2 separate regions of the Homo sapiens genome follow, and region 1 is linked to region 2. The links come from fine-mapping of genetic effects on gene expression. A gene starts in region 2. The other region holds a variant in brackets. All regions are shown on one strand. Distances are from middle to middle. Region 1 overlaps LOC105376025 (a long non-coding RNA gene). Region 2 holds the start of FANCG (FA complementation group G).

Region 1 (4,388 bases), 59 kb before region 2:
GTGTTCCTTTTTCTCTGCAACCTTGACAGCATCTGTTGTTTCTGGACTTTTTAGTAATCGCCATTCTGACTGGCATGAGATGGTATATCACTGTGGGTTTTCTGGGGGTTTTGTTTGTTTTGAGGCAGAGTCTCGCTTTGTTGCCCAGGCTGGAGTGCAGTGACACGATCTTGACTCACAGAAACCTACACCTACTGGGTTCAAGCAATTCTCCTGCCTCAGCCTCCTGAGTAGCTGGGATTTCAGGCATGTGCTACCATGCCCAGCTAATTTTTGTATTTTTGGTAGAGACAAGGTTTCACCATGTTGGCCAGGCTGGTCCCGAATTTCTGACCTCCAGTGATCCATCCACATTGGCCCCCAAGGTACTGGGATTACAGGCACGAGACACTGCTCCTGGCCTCATTGTGGTTTTGATTTGCATTTCTCTAATGATCAGTGATGTTGACCTTTTTTTCATACGGTTAACCATTTTTATAATCTGTAAATTTCAGATTTTCCTAGGTAAGAAACTTAAGATTAGATAAATGGTGTTTTGTTTACCAAAAATTCAGGATTTAGCTGTTTTCATTAACTAAACAATATTAAATGCCTTATATATCAAATTTTACATAAACAATTCTCTTTTGGGCTACATTCATAGCTTTACAACCTTCATGCCAAATGTTGACATCTAGCAGAGATCAATTCTGAAGCCATTTCTAATTCTACTTCACCAGTATTTTTAAAACCAGCTTATTTATTAAAGATTTACTTAAGTTGAGGCTGGGTGTGGTGGCTCACGCCTGTAATCCCAGCACTTTGGGAGGCCGAGGCAGGCGGATCATGAGGTCAGGAGATCGAGACCATCATGGCTAACACAGTGAAACCCCATCTCTACTAAAAATACAAAAAATTAGCCTGGTGTGGTGGCAGGCATCTGTAGTCCCAGCTACTCGGGAGGCTGAGGCAGAAGAATGGCATAAGTAAACCCGGGAGGCGGAGCTTGCAGTGAGCCGAGATGGTGCCACTGCACTCCAGCCTGGGGGACAGAGTGAGACTCCGTCTCAAAAAAAAAAAAAAAATGATTTACTTAAGTCACTTGAAGTTGAAAAAGCACTTGGTTTAAAGTCTCAATTTTCTAATAAAGTATTTGATTAAGTGCTTTTTTCTTTAAGCCAATTAATTAAAGCTCTTTTATATATTTTTAGTAATGAAACATCATATACATGACACATAAATATGTAGATGTATTAGACACGCAGGTAGAAGTAGATCTTATAGATTCATAAAACCTCTTTTTCCCTATTTTAGACTTCCAAATTCCTTTCTTTTCTTTTTTTTTTTTTTTGGCAGCAAAGAAAGAATTTAATAATCACAGGGCTAGCCAAGTGGTAATGAAATGGGAGGACTGGGAGGGGGCCTGAACAATCCCTGAGGAGGAGTAGAATAGCAGACGGAACACTGAGAAGTGATTTCCTTGAGGATAGATTTTCATGATGGAAAGGAAATGAGAGGTTCTAAGAGGTGGGCTAGCGGCTTGTAACCTACATGGAAGAGGCTATGAAATGATGACAGAATAGAATGGGCCTGTGAGGCTGGAAGGAGATATTTTCCTTGGTCTAAGAACCATTTGCCTTGTGTGGGAAGAGATTGATAGGTGGAAGTTTCAGTGGGGGAGTAGGTGGGAGTGACCGATGAGAAGGAGAAAAACTGGCCATGAGGGACAGAAGTTGGAATGCTAGCTGCTTTTTTAGCTACCTTATCAGCATAAGTGTTGCCCTGAGCGATGGGATCTGACGCCTTTTGATGGCCCTTGCAGTGAATGAATCCAGCTTCCTTTGGAAGTAAAGTGGCCTTGAGAAGAGTTTTTATTAAAGAGGCATTAATGATGGAGGACCCTTGC[G/A]TAGTGAGGAAACCTCTTTCAGCCCATATAACAGTATGGTGGTGCAGGATATGGAAGGCATATTTAGAGTCAGTATAAATATTGACACGTAGTCCCTTTGCAAGGGTGAGGGCTTGAGTTAAGGCAATGAGTTTGACTTGCTGAGAGGTAGTGGAGAGGGGCAGAAAGTATATGCATCAGGTATGAGGAAGAAAATAGATTTTGGAAGTTATGAGAACTGTAGAGAGTGAGTTGAGCATAGTTTGTGATTTTGAGGGCCTCTAAAAGTATTAAGGCAGTGGCAGCTGCCGCACACAGACATGAGGGCTAGGCTAAAACAGTAAGGTCAAGTTGTTTGGATAAAAAGGCCACAGGGCACGGTCCCAGTCCTTGTGTAAGAATTTTGACTGCACAGCCCTGCACTTCAGCTATGTGTAATGAAAAAGGCTGGGATGAGTTAGGGAGAGCTAGTGTGGGAGCAGCTTTTAGGGCTGTTTTTTAAGAAATGGAAAGGGGAGTGGGGAAAGAATTTAGGATTTATGGGGTCAGCTAGGTTTATCTAGAACAGAATGGGTTGTGGAGGGAGGTACTGAGGATAGGAGAGTCTATGGGTTTGGCACCACGGGGTAGATAGGCAAGACAATTTGGTTGATAAGGCGCAGATCCTGAACTAACCTGTAAGACTTGTCCAGTTTTTGGACAGGTAAAATGGGGAAATTGTAAGGAGTGTTTATAGGCTTTAAAAGGCCATGCTGTAACAGGCGAGTGATAACAGGCTTTAATGCTTTGAAAGCCTGCTGTGGGATGGGATACTGGTGTTGAGCAGGGTAAGGGTGATCAGGTTTTAATGGGATGGTAAGGGGTACGTCATCCATCGCCAAGGAGGGAGTAGAGGTGTCCTATACTTGTGGATTAAGGTGGGGAGATACAAAGAGAGGATGTGAAGGAGGCTTTGAACTGGGGGGAAAGGCAGCAATGAGGTGTGGCTGTAGCCCAGGAATAGTCAGGGGAGTAGATAATTTAGTTAAAATGTCTCGACCTAATAAGGGAGCTGGGCAGGTGGGGATAACTAAAAAGGAGTGCATTAAAGAATGTTGTCCAAGTTGGCACCAGAGTTGGGGAGTTTTAAGAGGTTTAGCAGCCTGGCCATCAATACCCACAACGGTTATGGAGGCAAGGGAAACAGGCCCTTGAAAAGAAGGTAATGTGAAGTGGGTAGCCTTCGTATTGATTAAGAAGGGGACGGACTTACCCTCCACTGTAAGAGTTACCCAAAGCGTCTGTGATGGTCCAGGAGGCTTCCGAGGTGATCAGGCAACGTCAGTCTTCAGCCACTGAGCCGAGAAGATCTGGGAAGGAGTCAGTCAGAGCCTTGGGCCAGTTAGACAGTCCAGTTTCCAGTGGGGTCCCACACAGATGGGACACGGCTTAGGAGGAGTCCCAGTTCTGTGGGCATCCCTTGGCCTAGTGGCCAGATTTCCAGCACTTGAAGCAAGATCCTGGGGGAGGAAGTCCTGAAGGAATGCCTGACTGCTGTGGCTTAGGCGTTTTGAAGTTTTTGTGTGCTGGAGATATGGCTGGGGTTTCTCACACAGCAGAGGCAAGTAATTGCAACTCTTTATTATTGTACACCTTGAAGGCGCGGTTAATTAGGTCCTGTTGTGGGGTTTGAGGACTGGAAGCTCATTTTTGGAGCTTTTTCTAATGTCGGGAGCGGACTGGGTAATAAAATGCATATTGAGAATAAGGCGGCCTTCCGGCCCCTCTGGGTCTAGGGCGGTAAAGCGTCTAAGGGTTGCTGCTAAGCGGGCCATGACCTGGGCTGGGTTTTCGTCTTTACCTCGGGTAGTTTTTAATTTTGTCATAATTAAAAGCTTTGTGTGCTGCCTTTTTAAGCCCTTCAACTAGGCAGGAAATCATGTAATCTCGCCTAGCTATACCTGGGGAATCTGCCTGATAGTTCCTTTGGGGGTCCTCTCGGGGAACTGCTCTGATGCCTTCCTGGAGGCCTGGCTCATGAAGCCAGCGGTTGTCAGCGTGAGACTGGGCTAGAGAAAAAACTCTTTCCTGTTCATCTGGGGAGAGGGTGGAAGTCAGGATGACATTTAAGTCACTGCAGGTTAACTTGCAGGACAGAGTTAGATATCGGAATTCCTGTATATATTTAGTGGGGTCTGATGAGAAAGAGCCCAAACACTGGCTGATTTGGGAAAAGTCTGATACAGAAAAAGGCACATGTACCCAGACTATGCCTTCAGCTCCAGCCACTTCTCTAAGAGGAAATTGTTGGGCAGGTGGGGGAGAGCTAGTCGCAGAACGAAACTGTAAAGCAGACCGGGTGTGAGGAGAGGAAGTGATAAAAGGATTATAGGGTGGGGGAGCAGTGGCTGAGGAAGAGTTGGGACCTGGCTCGGCCTAGCGAGAAGCAGCCTGGGGAGGAGGGGAGAGGTCAGATGGGTCTGTAGAAAAGAAGGATTCAAAGGACTCAGAGCTTGGGGTGGAGACTGAAGGAACAGACAGGAGA
Region 2 (4,313 bases):
TCCATCTCCCCACACACTCTGGCTTTCCTCTCCTGCAGGACCCCAAAGGTCACAATAATAATACCTCAACCTGGTCTGAAGAGCACAGAGAAGGGCACCTCTCTCCATGGAGGTGACAGATGTTGTTTATCCTCCCATCTCCCTGCAATAACTTAAACCCAGACTGAAGATGGCAGGGGAATCAGGGACAATCTCTGGCCCTCACCTCTCTCTAGGCTCCGCTGGATATCCTGGGCCTGATCCTCTGTGAAACCCTGGGCCAAGCTTGCCCTCAGGATAATGAAGTTGCAGGTGACAGTCAGCTCCAAGGGAAGAACAGGAACAGCTGCAGGGAGCCCTGGAGCAACAATGTTGGTCTTACAGACTGCTCCCCCATGGAAGATCCTCCAAATAAAATCCCAACTCAGAGATCACCCCACTCCAACCAAAACAGCTACAATAAAGAACCCACCCTCCAGCCAATTAGCTAAGGATTTAAAAAAAGAACCCAACCTTTGGACAGAGAGTCTGGAAAGGGCAAAAAAGTTATCCAGATCAGACCATCTTGGAAACCATTTTTCAAATGCCACTCTGTGAGTGTGTAAGGAAGAGAGGGATTTGCCTGTACAAAGATGATTCCACTCCAGTCTCCTCTGTGCCTTAAACAGGACTCCCTGCCCCGAGTAATTATATCGATCCCAAAAACGCAGGAGCGGATGTTTCTCTGGCTATGGAAGAGGGGAACTGACCATCCTGGGGAGGACCCGCCTACCTTGCAGACTATGGAGGAGCCCTCTGAGCCCTTCCAGTGCATCCTGAGCCAACTGCTGTCGCCTCAGAGTCAGACCGGAGTTCTGAGCCACCTGCCACATGAGGGAGGGGTTGTCACTGAGGATCAATCCTTTTTTCTCCCCTTGCAGCAGTGGCAAGGGATGCATTCTCCAGTCATTTCTGGCTCTTTGGTCAAGCTCAGTCCCTCCCCATCGGTTGGGGTAAATCCACTGCAAACCCGCTTTCAGGGATCTTGAGGCTGCAAACCGAGGGTGCCAGCAACCGTGTTACCTTGGCCTGTCGAACGAGCCGGTCATTCTTTTCCCTCCACAGGTCCAGGCAGCTGGAGCCCACAGAGGTGGTCTGGCGGGACATGGTGGCCGAGGCTGGGCCCGGAGACCAGAAGCGGACTTAGGAAGGGTGAAGCTGGCCTGCCCAAGCTCCCAACCCCAGCGGGGAGGGGCCTGGGCACTTCTGCACCCCGCCGAGCTCCCCTGCTTCTCTCGGGGTCCCAATCCACCCGCCCAGGCTTTCCAGGACAGATGGGACGCTCTCTCCCCGCGGCCCGCCGGGCTCTCAACCTCGCCTCTGGTTGGCCGGGTCTGCGAAGCTCTGGGCTGCGGTTGGTCCTCTTGAAGAGTTAGTTCCCGCGGGAAACTCGGGGAGGAAACGAGTCAGCAACCCCAAACAGGCTTAGGCGGGCTAGAAGCCGGGGTCGTGTCTGACTGGGGCAGTCGCACGGCCGGCGGTGCGGCCCGCTCGGCTCTCGCGGAGGCCACAGCCTCGAGAAAGGGTGGGCGGGAGCGAGTTTCGGCCCCACAGTCCGTGGCTCGGCCCTTCCTCGCTGCCACACCCCCAGGTCCTCCTGGGTTCCCGCTTCCACCGAGGGCCGACTGCGAGGTGCATGCTGGGAGTCGTAGTACCGCACCGGGGCGGAACAGCTCCGCCCCGGCGGATGGTGTTTCCAGAAAGCGGTAACTGGAGACGAGGGCGCTCCGTAATCGTCCATCCTTTCTCTGCTCACTGTCGAGCACCAACACGCTCACCAAGGTCGGCTTTCTACCGCGTGTAGTCTGCTGGCAGTGCCGCTCTGTACTTGCACTGCTCAAAAGTACCTGCCCAATCATTTCAAATTAAATGGAGCTAGGAGAATTGAATATCCATATGCAAAAAAAAAAAAAAAAAAAGACAGGAAAGAAAAGAACGCGACCATACATACGTACATAAAATCAACTCAATGGATCACAAACTAAATATAAGAGCCAAAAATATAAAACTTCTAAAAGAAAACGTAAAGCAGCCTAACTAACATGGTGAAACCTTCTCTACAAAAATACAAAAATTAGCAGGGCGTGGTGTCGTGCGCCTGTAATCCCAGCTACCCCGGAGGCTGAGGCGGAAGAATCGCTTGAACCCGGGTGGCGGAGGTTGCAGTGAGCCGACATCGTGCCATTGCACTCCAGCCTGGGTGACAGAGTGAGACTCCGTCTCAAAAAAAAAAAAAAAAGAAAACGTAAGAGAACAGCTTTATGACCTTGGGTTTGGCAACAAGTTGTTAGACACAGCACTAAAAGCTTGTACAATTTAAAAAAAAGTTAACTTTATTAAAATTAAAAACTCTTGTACTACAAAGACATCATTAAGAAGTCATACGCTGGGGCCGGGCGCCGTGGCTCACGCCTGTGATCCCAGCACTTTGGGAGACCGAGGCGGGCGGATCACGAGGTCAGGAGATCGAGACCATCATGGCTAACACGGTGAAACCCCGTCTCTACTAAAAATACAAAAAATTAGCCGGGCGATGTGGCGGGCGCCTGTAGTCCCAGCTACTCGGGAGGCTGAGGCAGGAGAAAGGCGTGAACCCCGCGGGCCAGAGCCTGCAGTGAGCCGAGATCGCCCCACTGCACTCCAGCCTGCGCAACAGCGAGACTCCATCTCAAAAAAAAAAGAAAAGAAAAGAAAAGAAAAGAAGAAAAATCATAGGCTGGATGTGGCTCATGCTGTAATCCCAGCACTTTGGGAGGCTGAGGCTGGAGGATTCCCTGAAGCCAGGAGTTCAAGACCAGCCTAGGCAACAAAGATGGTGTCTTTTGTAGAGACATTATCTCTACAAAAAATTTAAAACATTAACCCTGGCACAATAACACACCTGTAGACCCAGCTACTTGGGAGGCTGAGGTGGGAGGAGCCCTTGAGCCTAGGAGTTCCAGGTTGCAGTGAGCCATGATCACACCACTGCCCTCCAGCCTGAGTAACAGAGTGAGACCCTGCCTCAAAAAAAGAAAGGTCACAGTCACAGAGTGGGAGAAACTACTTGCTAATTATATACCTCATAAGGGACTGGTATCCCTAACACATAAAAACTCCCAAAACTCAAGAAAAAGATTTTTAAAAACAATCTTAGCTGGGTGTGGTGGTTCATGCCTGTTATCCCAGCACTTTGGGAGGCTGAGGTGGGAGGATCATTTGAGCCTCAGAAGTTTAAGACCTGCCTGGGCAACATAGCAAAACCCCACCTCTACAAAAAAAATACAAAAATTAGCTGGGCATGGTGGCACACACCTGTAGTCCCATCTACTCGGGAAACTTAGGTGGGAGGATCACCTGAGCTCAGGGATGTCGAAGCTGCAGTGAGCCATGATTGAGCCACTGCACTCCAGCGTGGGCAACAAAGTGAGACCCTGTCTCAAAACAAAACAAAAAACAATTTTAAGATGGACCAAAAAAAAAAAAAAAGACATTTTACCAAAAAAGATCTACTAATGGCTAAGAAACACATAAAAAGATGCTCGGCATTATTAGCTATTAGAGAAACACAGTTAAAAACATGGCCAGGGCCGGGCCATGTTATGCCTGTAATCCCAGCACTTTGGGAGGCTGAGGTGGATGGATCACTTGAGGTCAGGAGTTCAAGACCAGCATGGCCAACTTGGTGAAACCTCGTCTCTACTAAAAATACAAAAATTAGGCAGGCATGGTGGTGCATGCCTGTAATCCCAGCTACCTGGGAAGCTGAGGTGGGAGAATGGCTTGAACCCGGAAGGTGGAGGTTGCAGTGAGCCGAGATCCTGCCACTGAACTCTAGCCTAGGTGACACAGCGAGACTTCGTCTCAAAAAATAAAAAAACGCTTCACACAGCCGGGCGTGGTGGCTCACACCTTTAATCCCAGCACTTTGGGAGGCTGAGGCAGGTGGATCACTTGAGGCCAGGAGTTTGAGACCAGCCAAGCCAACAGGGCAAAACCCTGTCTCTACTGCAAATACAAAAATTAGCTGGGCATGGTGGCAGACACCTGTAATCCCAGCTACTCAGGAGGCTGAGGCATGACAATCACTTGAACCTGGGAAACGGAGGTTGCAGTGAGCTGAGACCATGCCACTGCACTCCAGCCTGGGTGACAGAGTGAGACTCTGTCTCAAAAATAAATAAATAAAAATAAAAACACTATACACATACATACATAAAATGACTACAATAAAAACAGATTATACCAAGTGTTGGTGAGGATGTGTATGAGGAACCCTCATACACTGCTGGTGGGAATATAAAATAGTACACTCA

What was found. PIP is the estimated chance that this variant, and not a neighbour inherited with it, causes the effect.
Region 1: its variant is the best candidate, but not a certain one, in a credible set for the expression of FANCG in blood mononuclear cells (TOPMed, PIP 0.52).

The regions. Positions count from the first base shown.
Region 1 is chr9:35,019,416-35,023,803 of GRCh38, forward strand. It overlaps LOC105376025 (a long non-coding RNA gene), which reads right to left. Exons shown (of 4, transcript XR_929579.3): 2 at 3,117-3,213. Among named protein-coding and RNA genes, the nearest start is that of SPATA31G1, 21 kb to the right of the region's middle. The variant G/A (reference allele first, on the strand shown) is at 1,886.
Region 2 is chr9:35,078,400-35,082,712 of GRCh38, forward strand. FANCG (FA complementation group G) reads right to left here and starts at 1,543. Exons shown (of 14, transcript NM_004629.2): 1 at 1,042-1,543; 2 at 752-842; 3 at 206-337. The coding sequence starts at 1,125. RefSeq lists enhancers at 565-1,172, 2,389-2,995 and a silencer at 1,248-1,413.